Linked DNA regions of Homo sapiens: region 1 is linked to region 2. The links come from fine-mapping of genetic effects on gene expression. Tissue or cell type: sun-exposed skin. Region 2 holds a variant in brackets; the other region holds the start of a gene. All regions are shown on one strand. Distances are from middle to middle.

Region 1 (8,108 bases), 74 kb after region 2:
TTTTAATTGGGGGAGGAGGATGGTGGCAACATTCCTATCAGAGAAATAACTCTATTTTCCTTCCGAAAGTATACGTTGTTGGGATTTTAGGTTTACTATGTTGTAAAAGCAATATATGAATGCTACAGGCTATCCTCCCTTATAAGATAGGCACACATCTGTTATTATGAAAAGTAACAAAAGTTCTCTGGCTTCCTTCTACCTCATTCCACTGCCCAGAACTGGCTACTGGTCTATCTTCTAAACATTCATGATGCTACTTTAAATACATGGAATGGAATATGTAATGACACATGCACACAACTTATGTACACATAGATGTACAAATATGCATACACACAGGTATACACACACAGTGTACTCTACAATGTATCATATACATATATAACGAGGATTTTTTTTTTTTGAGACAGGGTCTTACTCTATTGCCCAGGCTGGAGTGCCGTGATGCAATCATGGCTCACTGCAGCCTGGACTTCCCAGGTGATCTTCCTGCCTCTGCCTCCCAAGTAGCTGGGACTACAGATATGTGCCATCACACCTGGCTTTAATTTTTTTCTGTATTTTTGGTAGAGATGGGGTTTTGTCATGTTGCCCAGGTTGGTCTTGAACTCCTGGGCTCAAGCGATCTGGACTCTCAAAGTGCTGGGATTACAGGCGTAAGCCACGGTGCCTGGGCCTTTCCATCCTTTTTAACATTTCCTTTGTCTCTGCCCCTGGAATCAAGACAGCTCTTAGAGACACTACTAGTTTTTGCATAATAATATGCAAAATTCACACAACGGGTTAGACTGCAGGTACATCCATTCTAGCATAACATCTGAGATGGCTCCAGGGAGGGAGTTGGGAATAAGACCCATATGTGGCTCTGTCCTCAAAACTTCAACACACTTGGCCTTCCTTTAAACAACCTACTATGGAGTCTTCCATGATTGATTCCAAATCCTCTACAGTTACTACTGCCCGCTACGTCCATCTTGGAGACTCAAGTTTCTGGTATTCACGCATAAAGTCCTGAAGAATCTCCTTTTCCATAAAACTCTCTCTTTGAAACATGGTTCTTGTTCTGATAGTCTAGGTCAGGAGTCTGCAAACTATGGCTGGCCCTTGTTTTTGTAAATCAAGTTTGACTGGAACACAGCCATGCTTGTTTGTTTGCATGTTGTCTATTGCCGCTTTCGTGCTTCAACACCAGAGCTGAGTAGCTGCAATAGAAACTGTATAACCATAACCCAAAAAGCCTAAAATATTTCACTACCTGTCCCTTTACACAAAAAGTTTGCTGATCTATATTTTAGAATATGATGAAAACAGATTTTTTTCCTTATCAAAAATTTTAGAGGACTTGAATCATACACCCTATATCTAGGATCTTTGTCTAGGCTAAAGAGTCTGTTTTCTACTAAAAAAACAAACCAAAAGCACCTTGGCTCAGACAATAGCAGTGTCAGCTGGCAAAGGTTTAACAACTTGAACTCCAAGAGGAAAAAAAAGCTCTGATGTAGCATTTGCCAATTTCCATGGTGTTATTATTCCCACCATGGCTTATTTCAATCTAAAAAATGTGTTGCCACTGAACACGGAGTTAGGAAGAGATATGCACAAATGCTAGTATAAACCAGCTCTGAAACCACTGGCTCCTTGGGACACTTACTATCAATGGCCTAACTCCTCATTTTAAAGTCAAAGACACTGAGACCCAGAGAAAGTGTCTTAACCCGAGGCTGGCCCAGTGACTGGCACCAGGTTGGAGGTAATTTCCCTGTGAATCTGGCTGCCTCACAGGAAATTACTTCCTATGTAGAAGGAAGAGTGGGGGAAAGAAGGCAAAGGAAGTTCTTTGCCAGGCACGTGGTGATACACGTTGGTTTTTATCATCATCTTCACAGTGTGGGACTGGTTTCTTCAGCACATGCCTTTGAAGCACACTTTAGGTAGGGGGTACTGCTCTTCACACAGGACCAGCTTTCATGTACACACTCTGACTATATAATAGACTATCTCAATTAACCAGCAGTTATCAAAGCTATCAGACCATAATTGCCAGAAAGACAGGGACTGCATCTTTTGTGCTCACTACTTTCCTGGCATCCCGCACATAACTGGACACATGAGAAATAGGTGGCCAATAAAAATCTACTGAAAGAATGAAGGAATGAGACCCCACCATCAAAGTGGAATTTTTTAATACAAAGAACACAGCAGGTGCTCAGAGTTTAGATCCCATTTCCTTCTCCTGTGGACTTCTCCTCCTCCTCACCTGTGGACTGTGCAACACACACAACACGCTCATGTGCATGCAACATTTCTCAAGTATCGGCTGTAGCATTTAAACTGATCCATCAGAGCACAAGAGGCTCTATGGATGAAGGAACAAAAGGGAGGATGGAGTTAGAAAATTTCTTCCTCCCAAATATATACACATAACATCTGTCTTGAACTTGTTCTGACAAGGCACGAAGCTAAGGAAAGAGTCCCGTGAAGGACCTCACCTACCACACTCCAGGATGGTGGAAACTGCTTTTTGACAGGGGCTGAGGAAGCACCACTCAGAGTGACACCCTCTGAAAGTGGAAAGTGAAAGAACGTCAAGACTGGAAATCATTATTCCAATAAACTCAAGGCTAATAACCATGCAACTGCAAACAGAAATGAACACGTGCAAGGGAAGGCAAAAGCATGCCTCCTTGTTCTTTTGGAAATAACTTCCTGACTACTTGGTAACTCTCACAGGAACCCCTACACACTTGGCATGGTCTCCCCACTGGCACTTTTGTGAGCCTACAGGTCCTGTTTGCCACATCACTGTTGTAATCCTGATGCACAGACAGGTCAGCTCTGCAAGCACAGAGACAACCAAAGGCATGTGCGAAGCCTTGCTGACTTTTCAGGAGGCTGGCAAGGTTCATCACAGCCTCACGTGGGGACCTAGTACATGGTTTCCAAAGTGAGATCAAACTTGGTTCCAGATACCAGAGGTTAATACTGTCCATGGCATGAGGTGGTGTGTGTTCCCAATCAGAGGAAGGATCACAAACAAGAAGCAGGCCCAATGAATGAAGCCTCTGAAGCATTTCCTACACCAGCATCCTCAAAGTGTGGTGCAGAGAACTCCTAGGGATCTCCAAAGTCAAAACCATTTTCCTAGTAATAAAATGTTACTTGCTTTTTTTCATTCACACATTTTCAGGAGTATACAGTGGAGGTCTCAAGAGGCTACATGATATGTGATATTGCAACAGACTGCAGAAGCAGCTATCAGAATCCAGCTGTCTTCAATTACGCTTGACATCAAAGAGATTTGCAAAAATGTAAAACAATGCCACTCTTCTCAATCATTTTCTGTTTTGGGAAATATAGTTCTTTTTCATAAAAATAGGCAATGTTAAGATATAATTAGTTCACTATTCTTTTTAAATGAATTATTATAGTACAAATTTCTCAGTCTTACTTACATATTATAAATATGGATAGATATAACACACATAAAAGCTCCTTAAGATACTAATTTTTAAGAGTGTAAAGGAGTACTGAGTACCAGAAAAGTTTGGGGACTTCTGTCCTAGAGGTTGTCCCCCAGGGAAGAGAGTTACATGTGTTGCAAGAAGGAAGATGCCATTATGATGTGCTAGCTGAATCTAGAAAAAAATGACTTGGTCATAACTGCAGCCCAAGCTCCTTTCTAGATCTCTGAATCTATCATGGTGGGCTCTGTGTTCAAGCCTCCCACGAAGGGTCTCTTCCCCCTCATCCCATTTTCCCTTTACCCCTTGGAGTGGATTCCCGGATCTGCCCGCACAACTTTAGCAAGGGTTTCCCTATCCAGCCAGCCGGGCCTGGGCGAGGACTCCCAGTGCGGGCCTCACACCCTCGGGGTTAGGACTCCCAGGACTGGCCGCACACCCTAGGCAAGGACTTTCAGGACAGCACGCACAGCCAAGGCTAAGAAGGGTCTAGGAAAGCCACTTCCAATCCCTGGTTTCTCTCCCCGGCATGACATAGACTGGGGACAGGGTGGAGACGTCAGTCGCCAGAAACACGTCCCCGATTCTCCTCTCAGCCTCCCCAAGCTCGCCTCCGTGTCCCCCGTGCCGCCACTGCCTCGGGCACCTCGGTAAAGGCCCGCACCGACTCTCGAGGGATACAGGGTGGACGGCGCTCCCGCCTGGGGACGTGGGTCGGGCCGCGTCGGTACTCACCTCCGACTGCACGGCGGGGCTCCCGCGACCGGCGAACCTGACCCAAGCAGCGGGACGCGTTCCCGTGCGCTGCGCGGTTCCAGCTGCCGCCTCCACGCTCCGCCCCCTCTCGCCCCCGGGGCCGCCGCGCGATGGGCGGAGCAGGGGCGGGAAGGGCGGAGCAGGGGCGGGACGGACGGGCAGCTAGCCGAAGAAGGGGCGGAGCCTGCGGGCGCCCCCGCGGGCCTGGAGGACTTCGCCCCGGGCTGGAGGCTAGGGTTGCGAAGGGCTCCTCCGCTGGAAGTGGGAGGGCTGATCCCTCGGCCCGGGTCCGCTTCTGCCAGCATGGGACCTGGGACGAGGGTGTCTGTTGCTCACTTTGGAGCTTAGCATGTGACTCCCCAGCCGGCGTTAGGAAGTGACCAAAGGGTGGGGAAGAAATGGAATTATTTTTAAAAAATGATTTGGCCATAACTGGAGAGGCTTCATGTACGTGTGGTCACTTGGCCCGCCTCCCTTCTCACTTTGTCCGTCCCCACCCTACCCACCCTCTCCACCCTCGCCTTAATTCTTTGCGCAAAGCCTGCCAAGTGGACATCGGAGTCACGCTGTCAGAATAGGACTTCAGCATTTCCGTGGCAAAAGTTCTATATGTAGATTTCCTTGGACATGTAACAACACTTTCTAATGCACGATGTTCACCGGTCTGAAGTCGGAGAAATGGCTGGGAGATGGCAGCAAGTGGGCTTTCACAAGATCTGCTTTTCATGTTGGTAGGAGTTGTGCCCTCTTGGGTGAATGGCGTTCAAAGAAGTGATTAGATCTTTCTAGATGAAAGGTGGTGAGGTTTTCCTGCCCAAATTATTTGGAAAGTTACTGTAGTTTTCTGAATAAGCAGCTTATAGGATGAGTAAACAATAGCCAGTACTAATAGCCCCCCTGCTACTTTATACTGCCCTCCTATTCTGCACAAAGCCCTGTGATCGACTCTTTCCACGTTATTCAGTTCAGCTCTTCCAACCACCTTACAAGTAAAGAATATTACCCGTCTTTGCAGGTGTGCAATGCGCAACAGCTGAGACTCAGTCCTTAGGTTGGTTTGACACCAAAGCCTACACCTTCCCTGTCATACTGCACTATAGGGTACAACTATCGTCTAGTTATATTTAACTTTGAAATATAAATACTTATATTTATTTTGAAAGGGGAAGTAACTGTATTTCCAATATGAGAGGAGACTGTTTTCCCACCCACTTCCTAAATCCTTTCCATTCACATTAGTAATTAAATTTTCTTTGAATGTCCACCATATGGCAGAGGTGCACCACAATCCCTGAAAAATCATGCTCCAGTCCCCTTGGGAGGTAGGGAGAGTAGGGGCAAGGTGAGAGTGAGTAGAAGGCTGGGGAAGTCCGATGAGGACACATCCAGCTAAATTGCGATTCTTAATGAGGCAGCCATTCGGAAAGCAAAGTATCTAATGTTCAATGATAACATCCGTGTAACTGAGAATCCTTCGCAGAAAACAATCAAATCAGAGCTATGAAGGGAATTGAGATTTATTAGTAAGCACGCTGGTCAAAACCGTGAAGGAAATAGTTCCACATCCCCCCAGTCTGTTGCTCTTGGACGTTGTCACCAGTGACGTGCAGATCGTGAATCCCAGGGCCTGTCCTCTGTTCCTGTCCTTACTCACTACTCTGTGGTATTTGACACTGGCGATTCGTTTTCCTAGAAATGTTAACCTCCTTTTGGCTTTTCAGCCCTCCGCTCTTAGGAGTCACCTCTTCCCTCTTTTGTCCCTCTTTTTTAAGGTCTTTCCCTACACTCTCTCCTCTTGCTTTATATGTTTCTCCATTTGCTGAGTTTTTCTTCATCTATTTTCTCAGTATGCAGACTGCCTGCCACTTCTAGCTGAAGCCTGCTATGTCTCTGTCATTGGTCTTAGTTAACTTTCTGACCTTCACACTCTTGATTTGCAGCCATATGTGGCAACCCCACCTGGATATTCCAAAGGTGTCTGTATTAGACCGTTCTCACGCTGCTGTAAAGAACCCTGAGACTGGGTAATTCATAGGGAAGGAGGTTTAATTGGCTCACAGTTCTGCATGCTGGGGAGGCTTCAGGAAGCTTACAATTATGGCAGAAGGGGAAGCAGGTATGTCTTACCTGGCAGCAGGCAAGAGAGTGTCCTCTGAATGCACAGTGGTCCTCCTGAATGCTTTGAGGGGACCTTAGAATCCCTAAATTTTTCACTGAATATATGTCTTCATACCAGAGAAAATTTGAAATAAACGTTTTGTTCCTCTTTAAGAAAAAAAGAGTTAAATTCATAACAAGGAGAGGCAGGTCTTAGCCTCATCTTGGCTCCCGGTAAATATCCAACGGCTCTCCCCTGATGCCCTCTTCCCACCACACCTGCTATACGTTTAATTTTCGTGCTCTCTTAATTACTGCCTAAGGGCCTGATCCCTGAGCTGCCTTCCCAGGGAACAAGAATCCTCTGGGCAGCTGCTTACAGTTTCTCTCAGTATAGCTAATAATAAAAATCATCCCCATGATCCAATCACCTCCTTCCCTCCACAGGTGGGGATTACAAACCATATCAGTGCCTGTCATTCATCACATCTAAAATGGGAATTTAGTGTCTTCTCTAACCATCTGTCTCTCCCCTCCTATCCATTTAGTTTCTTTTTCATCCTAATCCTGCATCCCGAATTTGTATTTCATGATCTGCTGAGAAAGCTAAATGTTTAAGGGGTATATTGCCATGGCATATTACTACGCTCTCACAGGGTCCACCTAACAAATATTTCTGTCACGATATAAAAGGTTCTGCTAATGGCCCAGCTGAGGGCATATACTCTAGGGACCTTCAGAGAGGATGCCACCCAAGCATGTAACTGCTCAGGCACCCCAGCTGTGCTCTGGTGGGGGGCAGAGGCAGAAGGACCTTCATTTGAAGTAACAGTATTGTTTTAGCAGCCTTACCTGCTAGAAGGCTCTGCTGCTATAAGAAGAACCATGAAGATTCTGCCAGAGACCTGTTGAGCTCTGAGGAATGCCTCATCATATTCCACACCGATTTCAGTTACTTGTATATGCTGGACTTCCTCAGTTTATTGAAAGGTCCTAGGAACTATACCCAACTAACTTTGTATCATGCTTTACAATTTATACTGCATTTTCACATACATGTCATTTAATAGGAAGGGAGAGGTGTAAGAGAAAAAGTCAAGCATAACGCTTCTCAAACCTTGGGGTACATTGAAAACATGCGTGCCTGTGTTGTGCTCTTAGGAGGCTGAGTTTGATGTGGGTGGTCAAAAGACCATGCTTTGAGAAACACCAATGGTAGTTCTCCGAATCTGGGTGTTTCTCAGATTTACCATAGGGCACTGATAAAAATATAGCCTCCTGTATCCTCTGCCTCCTAGAATGTCTGATTCATTAGGTCAGGGTGGGGGTCTGTGTTCAGATTCTGAATACGCTACATTTTTACCACAGGTGATTCTGCTGTAGCATGTCCCCAGATTGGCACCAAAGACCTGTTACCTAGAAATATACACTCCATGAGGGCAGGGGCCCATGTCAGTTTGTTCATCATCCCTAACATGGAGTCTGGTGCATAGTAGGTGCTCAATACAAGTTTGTTGACTGACTTACTGTCAGTGTCTTTCTATTGCTTACCCTTTGCTCTCTGTTGGCCTTTGCGCTGTTCAGAGTCCTCTAGAGTGGCACGGAGGGAAGACATCTGTTTGGCAATGAATGAAGTATAAAATGGTCCTCCTGAATGCTTTGAGGGGACTTTAGAATCCCTAAATTTTTCACTGAATATATGTCTTCATACTAGAGAAAATTTGAAATAAATGTTTTGTTCCTCTTAAAATCAAAGTTATATTCATAACAAGGAGAGGCAGGTCTTAGCCT
Region 2 (8,108 bases):
GAAAAATTGGATTAAAAACAGGAGGCCTGGACACCCTTTATTTTTACAAAAATAATGAAGATAATTTCAGGTGGGATGGGGCCAAGAAGTGGGGAAGGGGAAATTATATTTGGTTTTTAATTTTTTAATTATTTCTTATTTATTTTTTTGAGACAGAGCCCAGGCTGGAGTGCAGTGGTGTGATATTGGCTCACTGCAATCTCAGCCTCCCAAGCAGCTAGGACTACAGGTGTGTGCCACCACGCATCACTAATTTTTGTAGTTTTAGTAGAGATGGGGCTTTGCTATGTCGCCCAGGCTGGTCTTGAACTCTGGACTCAAGTGATATGCCAGCCTCGGCATATCCCAAAGTGCTGGGATTACAGGCGTGAGCTACTGTGCCCAGCCAGTATATTTGTTTTTTTAAATCAAAACATTCTAGGTCTAGCTGGGCATGATGGCTCACGCCTATTGCGCCAGCTACATGGGAGGATCATTTAAGCCCAAGAGTTCAAGTCCAGCCAGGGCAACATAGTAGGAATCTATCTCAAAAAGGGGGAGTGGGGGAAAGGAAGCCGGGTGTGGTGGCTTACACCTGTAATGCCAGCACTTTGGGAGGCTGAGGTGGGTGGATAACCTGAGGTCAGGAGTTCAAGACCAGCCTGGCTGACATGGTGAAGCCCCATCTCTACTAAAAATACAAAAATTAGCTGGATGTGGTGGCACCTGCCTGTAATCCCAGCTACTTGGGAGGCTGAGGCAGGAGAATCATTTGAACCCAGGAGCTGGAAGTTGCAGTGAGCTGAGATTGTGCCACTGCATTCCAGCCTGGGTGACAAAATGAGACTCTGTCTCAAAAAAAAAAAAAAAAAAAAAAGCTAGATCTAATTTTTTTTTTATATAAAGCAAATTTGAATTTGAAGTGGTATGGTAATCAATATATTATCTATGTATGATCCGTAACCAATTAAAAGATATAAGGGGGAGGGAGATTTCCATTCGCAGTGACAATAAGTGTAGCTCATGCATGTAGAACACTGACTCTCCAACAGTCCCTGCAAATGCTTTACTTACATCAATAGGCTTTACAGCAATCCATACAGTAGTGCCTCCTATGTCATTTTATAGGCAGGAAACTGAGACTTGAATAGCTTCAGTGCCAGTAGATCACACAGCTAGTTCATGGTAGAGTTGGTAGAACCCATCTGTTTCACCATTACATCTACCAGCCTAATCAGAAAAGTTTGAAGCAGAAATGAGGACAAATAAAAAAATTTTACTGGGAGATATTAAGATAAAAGAAATGCCATGCTCTTGAATGGAATGACTGAATATTTTAAACACGTGCATTCACCCCAAATTTGCTTATTCACGTGTCACAAACCATATTGAAAGCATAAATGATACTTTTAACTTGATAAAATGGTTCTAGAGTTTATATAAAATAATAAATAGATGAAAATAGCTATATTTCTAGAAAAATAAAAATGGGGGTAGCTAGTAGTTTCGTATTGATAAGGCAATCCCTAATGAATGGAGATTGCCTTATCAATACAAAACTACAAGCCACCCCATTAACATTTTCATGGCTCTTAGCATAAGACTAGCCTAACAGAGAAGAGGCAACGGTGATGGGCATTTACCCTGTGCTGGGCAGGCCTGAGCAGTCATAAACTCATGTTATCTCCTGACAGTCCGTGAAGCAGATGCTATTGTCCCATTTTGTATGTAAAGAAACGAGGCACTTGCCCCAAATCACATAGCTGCTAAGTGACAGGGACACTATTTGCACCTAGGCTGTCTGGATCCACCTGGGACACGTGAAAGCATAATCTGATATGGAGAGGCGCCACCATAAACCATAAACCAGTGGGACGGACAGAATCTTCCATAGAAGACATGGAGGAAATCAGTGTGTTCTTTCTTCCTTCATGAGGCTTCAGGGTTCCTTTTATCATTTCCTCTGTTTAGAAAACTTCTTTTAGCCATTCTTTTAGGGTAAATCTGCTGATGACAGATTCTCAGTGTTCCTTCATCTAAGAATGTCTTCATTTCTCCTTTATTTTTGAAGGTGGCATTTTGCTGAGTCTAGGGTTCTGGGGTGGACTGTTCTTTTCTTTCAGCGTTTAAAAAATATTGTGCCACTTCCAGGTAGCCTCCATCGTTTCTAATGACAAATCTCCTGTTATTCAGACTGATTTCCCCCTATGGGTAAGGTGTCATTTTTTTTTTTTTTTCTGGCTGCTTTCAAGATTTTTTTCTTCAGTTTTCATAAATTTAATTATAACCTGTCTTAGAGTGTTTTTTGAAGGGGTTTATCCTGTTTGGAGCTTGTTCAGCTTCTTGAATCCTGGTTGATGTAGCTTGTTAAATTTGGGATATATTTGGAGGTCATTTCTGTGAATACTTTTTAAGCCCTGCTCTTTCTTCACTCCTTGCAGAACTCCAGTGCCATGACATCATTTTTTATAGTCCTACGGGTCCTTGAGACTTTGCGCTTTTTTTTTCCCCAGTGTATTTTTTTGTTGTTCAGATTGGGTAATTTCTGTTGTTCTTTCAGTTCACTGACTCTTTTCTTTGTCCCTTCCATTCTGCTATGGAAAGCCCATCCATTGAACTTTTTATTTTGGTTGTATCTTTCAGTTCTAAACTTTATGTCTTCCATTTCATTGTTGAGCCTTTATGTTTTCTCTTTATGTTTCAAAAGTATTTATAATTGCCCATCGAAGCATCTTTATTAGGTGCTTTAAAATCTTTCTCTTCTCAGTGTTGGCATCTATGATTGTCTTTTTTTTTCATTCAGTTTGAGATCTTTCTGTTTATTGGTATGAAGAGTTTTATAATATCATGTCCATGGTTCTAAGTTGGACCATGTTCTTAGCCAAGGCCTAGATTTTGAATTAGAATACAATCATACTATACATATGCAACAATATTCCCTGTGGCTGAAGGGGAGAGAGAAAAAAGGTTTTAGATGTTGGGGGCTGTATTAGTCTGTTTTCATGCCACTGACAAAGACATAACCGAGATTGGGAAAACAAAGAGGTTTAATTGGACTTACAGTTCCACATGGCTGGGGAGGCCTCAGAATCACGGAGGGAGGCAGAAGGCACTTCTTACATGGCAGCGGCAAGAGAAAAATGAGGAAGAAGCAAAAGTGGAAACGCTGATAAACCCATCAGGTCTTGTGAGACACAATCACTATCATAAGAATAGCACAGGAAAGACTGGCCCCCCATGATTCAATTACCTCC[C/T]CCTGGGTCCCTCCCATAACACGTGGGAATTCTGTTAAGATACAATTCAAGTTGAGATTTGGGTGAGGACACAGCCAAACCATATCAGGGGCTCTTCTGCCTGTTGTATCACTCACTGAGTTTGTGCCTGCAAATGGATATAATTATGCCTGAAACAGCGCATATTGTATATCTGGTACAGGTTTTGTTTTTTTTCCCAAGTTTTGCCAAACACTAAAGTAGAAAGCATAGTTCATATGACTATTCTATGGACATCTTTAGTGCTTTTATGAGCATTTTTGATGAAGAAATTGAAAGACTAATTGGAGGCCACAATTAAGCATTGACTAATACTAAGTTAGGAGAACCAATAAAATCTGTGATTTTACAAAGTCAGGTACCATATGTTCATGGAAGTTGTATATGAATGATTATACATGTGCGTGCATGTATATGTATTGTACGTATCTGTGCCTGTTTCTTGCTATATATGTTGTACTCAAATTACATTTGCGGTCTTTCTTTTTGCATTAGATTCTGCATATACAGACTCATGAAAAATTCATCAGAGATAGTCAAGAAAAACCAAAACCTGTACCTGATAAGGAAAATAAAAAACTGCTCTGCAGAAAGTGCAAAGCCTTGGCATGTTACACAGCTGACGTAAGAGTGATAGAGGTAAGCTGCCTTTTTACAAAGTGCCTGGTCATGTTTTAGCACTAGCTACAGCTTACTGTTGGTGAAATATTTATAATAAAACTACTATTATTTCCATTGTTACTGTGGCCATGATCTGTGTATTTAAAAAAAGCTAAGAAGTGAAAAAAAAATACTAAATGTTCAATAATAAAGAAATAGTTTTTGGCCAGGCATAGTGGCTCATGCCTGTAATCAAAACACTTTGGGAGGCCAAGGTGGGCGATCACGAGGTCAGGAGTTCGAGACCAGCCCGGCCAACATGGTGAAACCCCGTCTCTACTAAAAATAAAAAAGTTAGCTGGGCGTAGTGGCAGGTGGCTGTAATCTTAGTTACTCGGGAGGCTGAGGCAGGAGAATCGCTTGAACCGGGAGGCAGAGGTTGCGGTGAGCTGATATCGCGCCACTGCGCTCCAGCCTGGGTGACAGAGCAAGACTCTGTCTCAAAAAAAAAAAAAAAAAAGTCATGCTAAATGCAATGACGTGTCCTGGATTAGCTCCTGGAACAGATAAAGGATACAACTAGAGAAAGAGTGGTAAAATCTGTAGTTTAGATAATAGTAATGTACTGATGTTAATTATCTTGGTTTTGACAAATGTGCTGTGGTATATGAGATGTTAACATTTGGGGAAACTGGGTAAAGGGTATGCAGAAATTTTCTGGGATATCTTTGCAATTTTTCTTTAAATCTAAAATTGTTCCAAAGTAAAGTTTATTTTAAAAAATTATGAAGTTTATGTAGTATAATGAAAAACTGCTTACAAACTAATGGTAATAAGGAAAAAAGTAACCAGAACACAGAATTGTAAAGATGCTACTTTGTAGCTGTGTGAAACAACAGCAGCAAATACATTCATTGTCATTGTCAAGAGAAAAAGTCAAAAAACCTACCTTGCTACAGAAAAACAAAGGCTAGGGGAACTATACCAAAATGTATTAATATTTTGGTGGTGAGATTCCATGACTTTTTTTCTCTTTTCCTACTACCTTATGTTTTCCAAACATTCCTTTTGGGCTATGGATCACTTTTATAATGAAAACAAAATATCTCCTTATTTGTAAAATGTGACATCTGCAGATTAGCCTTCTATTGCAGCCTTATATTTCTTTCTTAAAACTTTCAGAGAAAGGGTTAGAAAAATCTCCAAAGAGAAATATGGGGTATAACTCTTGCATGGGGGGCACAGTGGAGGGGCTGGGCTGGCTCAGATGAGGAGTTATTACTTCAGGATGTTCCGTTCGTCTTCAGAAAGCAGAAATCTCTCATCAGCTCAGCTGTTTGGGCAAAAAGCCTATTAGGAGTCATATTGCTAAGTTCCCTTACCTTTCTAAGTCTGCTTCTTTAGCTGTAAAAGGTCCTTTCAGCTCCAATTTGGGTGATTGTTCTACTAAAAATGGCCCTTTTAGACCCTATGTTTTCCTGAGGGACTAGTATGTTGGATCTGCATTTGTTTCTGAGCTGTTTACTCTAAAGTTGACTCTAGGTGGGGCCTGTGGACACATTAGTCCCTGACCTTCTTCAATTGCATCTTGACCTTGGTCGTTTTCCCTGTATCCTTTGGATTGTGCCTGCCAGGGCCACTGGTGAACTTCAGCTTCACAAATTTTCAGCAAACATCGCTTCTGTTTTTGAATAATGAGTATCTACCTTCAGAAGCTGGGTTACCTGGAACCTTCTTAATCTTCTTCTTTATGAGGTGCCCAGTGTCCTCACTTGCAACCCCACCCTGCCTGTAGAGGGGAGTCAGGTGCATGGATCCTCTGGACTTTGGGTGAATCTATTTTTTTTTTTCCTCCAATTGTAAAATAAGTGAGACCCACCTGTTCTTTGCCTCAGATTATTGTGGGGTTTTCTTTTTTTTTTTTTTAAATCACAATTATGTACTGGTTCTAACGTTCTCTTTTGTGTGTTATTCCATCCCTTCATCTGTAGGAATGCCATTACACTGTGCTTGGAGATGCTTTTAAGGAATGCTTTGTGAGTAGACCACATCCCAAGCCAAAGCAGTTTTCAAGTTTTGAAAAAAGAGCAAAGATATTCTGTGCCCGACAGAACTGCAGCCATGACTGGGGAATCCATGTGAAGTACAAGACATTTGAGATTCCAGTTATAAAAATTGAAAGTTTTGTGGTGGAGGATATTGCAACTGGAGTTCAGACACTGTACTCGAAGTGGAAGGACTTTCATTTTGAGAAGATACCATTTGATCCAGCAGAAATGTCCAAATGATATCAGGTCCTCAATCTTCAGCTACAGGGAATGAGTAACTTTGAGTGGAGAAGAAACAAACATAGTGGGTATAATCATGGATCGCTTGTACCCCTGTGAAAATATATTTTTTAAAAATATCTTTAGCAGTTTGTACTATATTATATATGCAAAGCACAAATGAGTGAATCACAGCACTGAGTATTTTGTAGGCCAACAGAGCTCATAGTACTTGGGAAAAATTAAAAAGCCTCATTTCTAGCCTTCTTTTTAGAGTCAACTGCCAACAAACACACAGTAATCACTCTGTACACACTGGGATAGATGAATGAATGGAATGTTGGGAATTTTTATCTCCCTTTGTCTCCTTAACCTACTGTAAACTGGCTTTTGCCCTTAACAATCTACTGAAATTGTTCTTTTGAAGGTTACCAGTGACTCTGGTTGCCAAATCCACTGGGCACTTCTTAACCTTCTATTTGACCTCTGCGCATTTGGCCCTGTTGAGCACTCTTCTTGAAGCTCTCCCTGGGCTTCTCTCTCTTCTAGTTCTATTCTAGTCTTTTTTTATTGAGTCCTCCTCTTTGCTGATCCCTTCCAAGGGTTCAATATATATACATGTATATACTGTACATATGTATATGTAACTAATATACATACATACAGGTATGTATATGTAATGGTTATATGTACTCATGTTCCTGGTGTAGCAACGTGTGGTATGGCTACACAGAGAACATGAGAACATAAAGCCATTTTTATGCTTACTACTAAAAGCTGTCCACTGTAGAGTTGCTGTATGTAGCAATGTGTATCCACTCTACAGTGGTCAGCTTTTAGTAGAGAGCATAAAAATGATAAAATACTTCTTGAAAACTTAGTTTACTATACATCTTGCCCTATTAATATGTTCTCTTAACGTGTGCCATTGTTCTCTTTGACCATTTTCCTATAATGATGTTGATGTTCAACACCTGGACTGAATGTCTGTTCTCAGATCCCTTGGATGTTACAGATGAGGCAGTCTGACTGTCCTTTCTACTTGAAAGATTAGAATATGTATCCAAATGGCATTCACGTGTCACTTAGCAAGGTTTGCTGATGCTTCAAAGAGCTTAGTTTGCGGTTTCCTGGACGTGGAAACAAGTATCTGAGTTCCCTGGAGATCAACGGGATGAGGTGTTACAGCTGCCTCCCTCTTCATGCAATCTGGTGAGCAGTGGTGCAGGCGGGGAGCCAGAGAAACTTGCCAGTTATATAACTTCTCTTTGGCTTTTCTTCATCTGTAAAACAAGGATAATACTGAACTGTAAGGGTTAGTGGAGAGTTTTTAATTAAAAGAATGTGTGAAAAGTACATGACACAGTAGTTGCTTGATAATAGTTACTAGTAGTAGTATTCTTACTAAGACCCAATACAAATGGATTATTTAAACCAAGTTTATGAGTTGGTTTTTTTTCATTTTCTATTTGTATTTTATTAAGAGTGTCTTTTCTTATGTGATTTTTTTTAATTGCTATTTGATATGGTTTGGCTATATGTCCCCACCCAAATCTCATCTTGAATTATAATCCCCATGTGTCAAGGGAGGGACCTGACGGGAGGTGATTGGATCACGGGGGCAGTTGTCCCCATGCTGTTCTTGGGATAGTGAGTTAGTTCTCATGAGATCTGATGGTTTTATAAGTGTTTGACAATTCCTCCTTTACACACACTCTCTCTCTCATCTGCTGCCATGTAAGACTTGCCTGCTTCCCCTTCTGCCATGATTGTAAGTTTCCTGAGGCCTCCTCAGCCATGTGGAACTGTGAATCTATTAAGCCTCTTTTCTTTATAAATGACCCAGTCTCAGGCAGTTCTTTATAGCAGTGTGAAAACAGACTAATACACTATTGTTTAAGAACTCCAATAGGATGTGTAAAACATCTACTAGAAATAGATTTAATAAGATAAAAGTTATTATTATTATTTTTTTTTCTGAGATGGAGTC

What was found. PIP is the estimated chance that this variant, and not a neighbour inherited with it, causes the effect.
Region 1: it holds the start of ACO1, and the variant in region 2 is fine-mapped to the expression of ACO1 in sun-exposed skin (GTEx, PIP 0.99).

Annotation. Positions count from the first base shown.
Region 1 is chr9:32,380,827-32,388,934 of GRCh38, reverse strand. ACO1 (aconitase 1) reads right to left here and starts at 4,292. Exons shown (of 21, transcript NM_002197.3): 1 at 4,200-4,292. RefSeq lists a silencer at 4,112-4,491.
Region 2 is chr9:32,455,153-32,463,260 of GRCh38, reverse strand. It overlaps RIGI (RNA sensor RIG-I), which reads left to right. Exons shown (of 18, transcript NM_014314.4): 17 at 3,747-3,890; 18 at 5,843-7,959. The coding sequence ends at 6,139. LOC101060445 (a long non-coding RNA gene) reads right to left here and starts at 4,219. Exons shown (of 1, transcript NR_197444.1): 1 at 1-4,219. The variant C/T (reference allele first, on the strand shown) is at 3,234.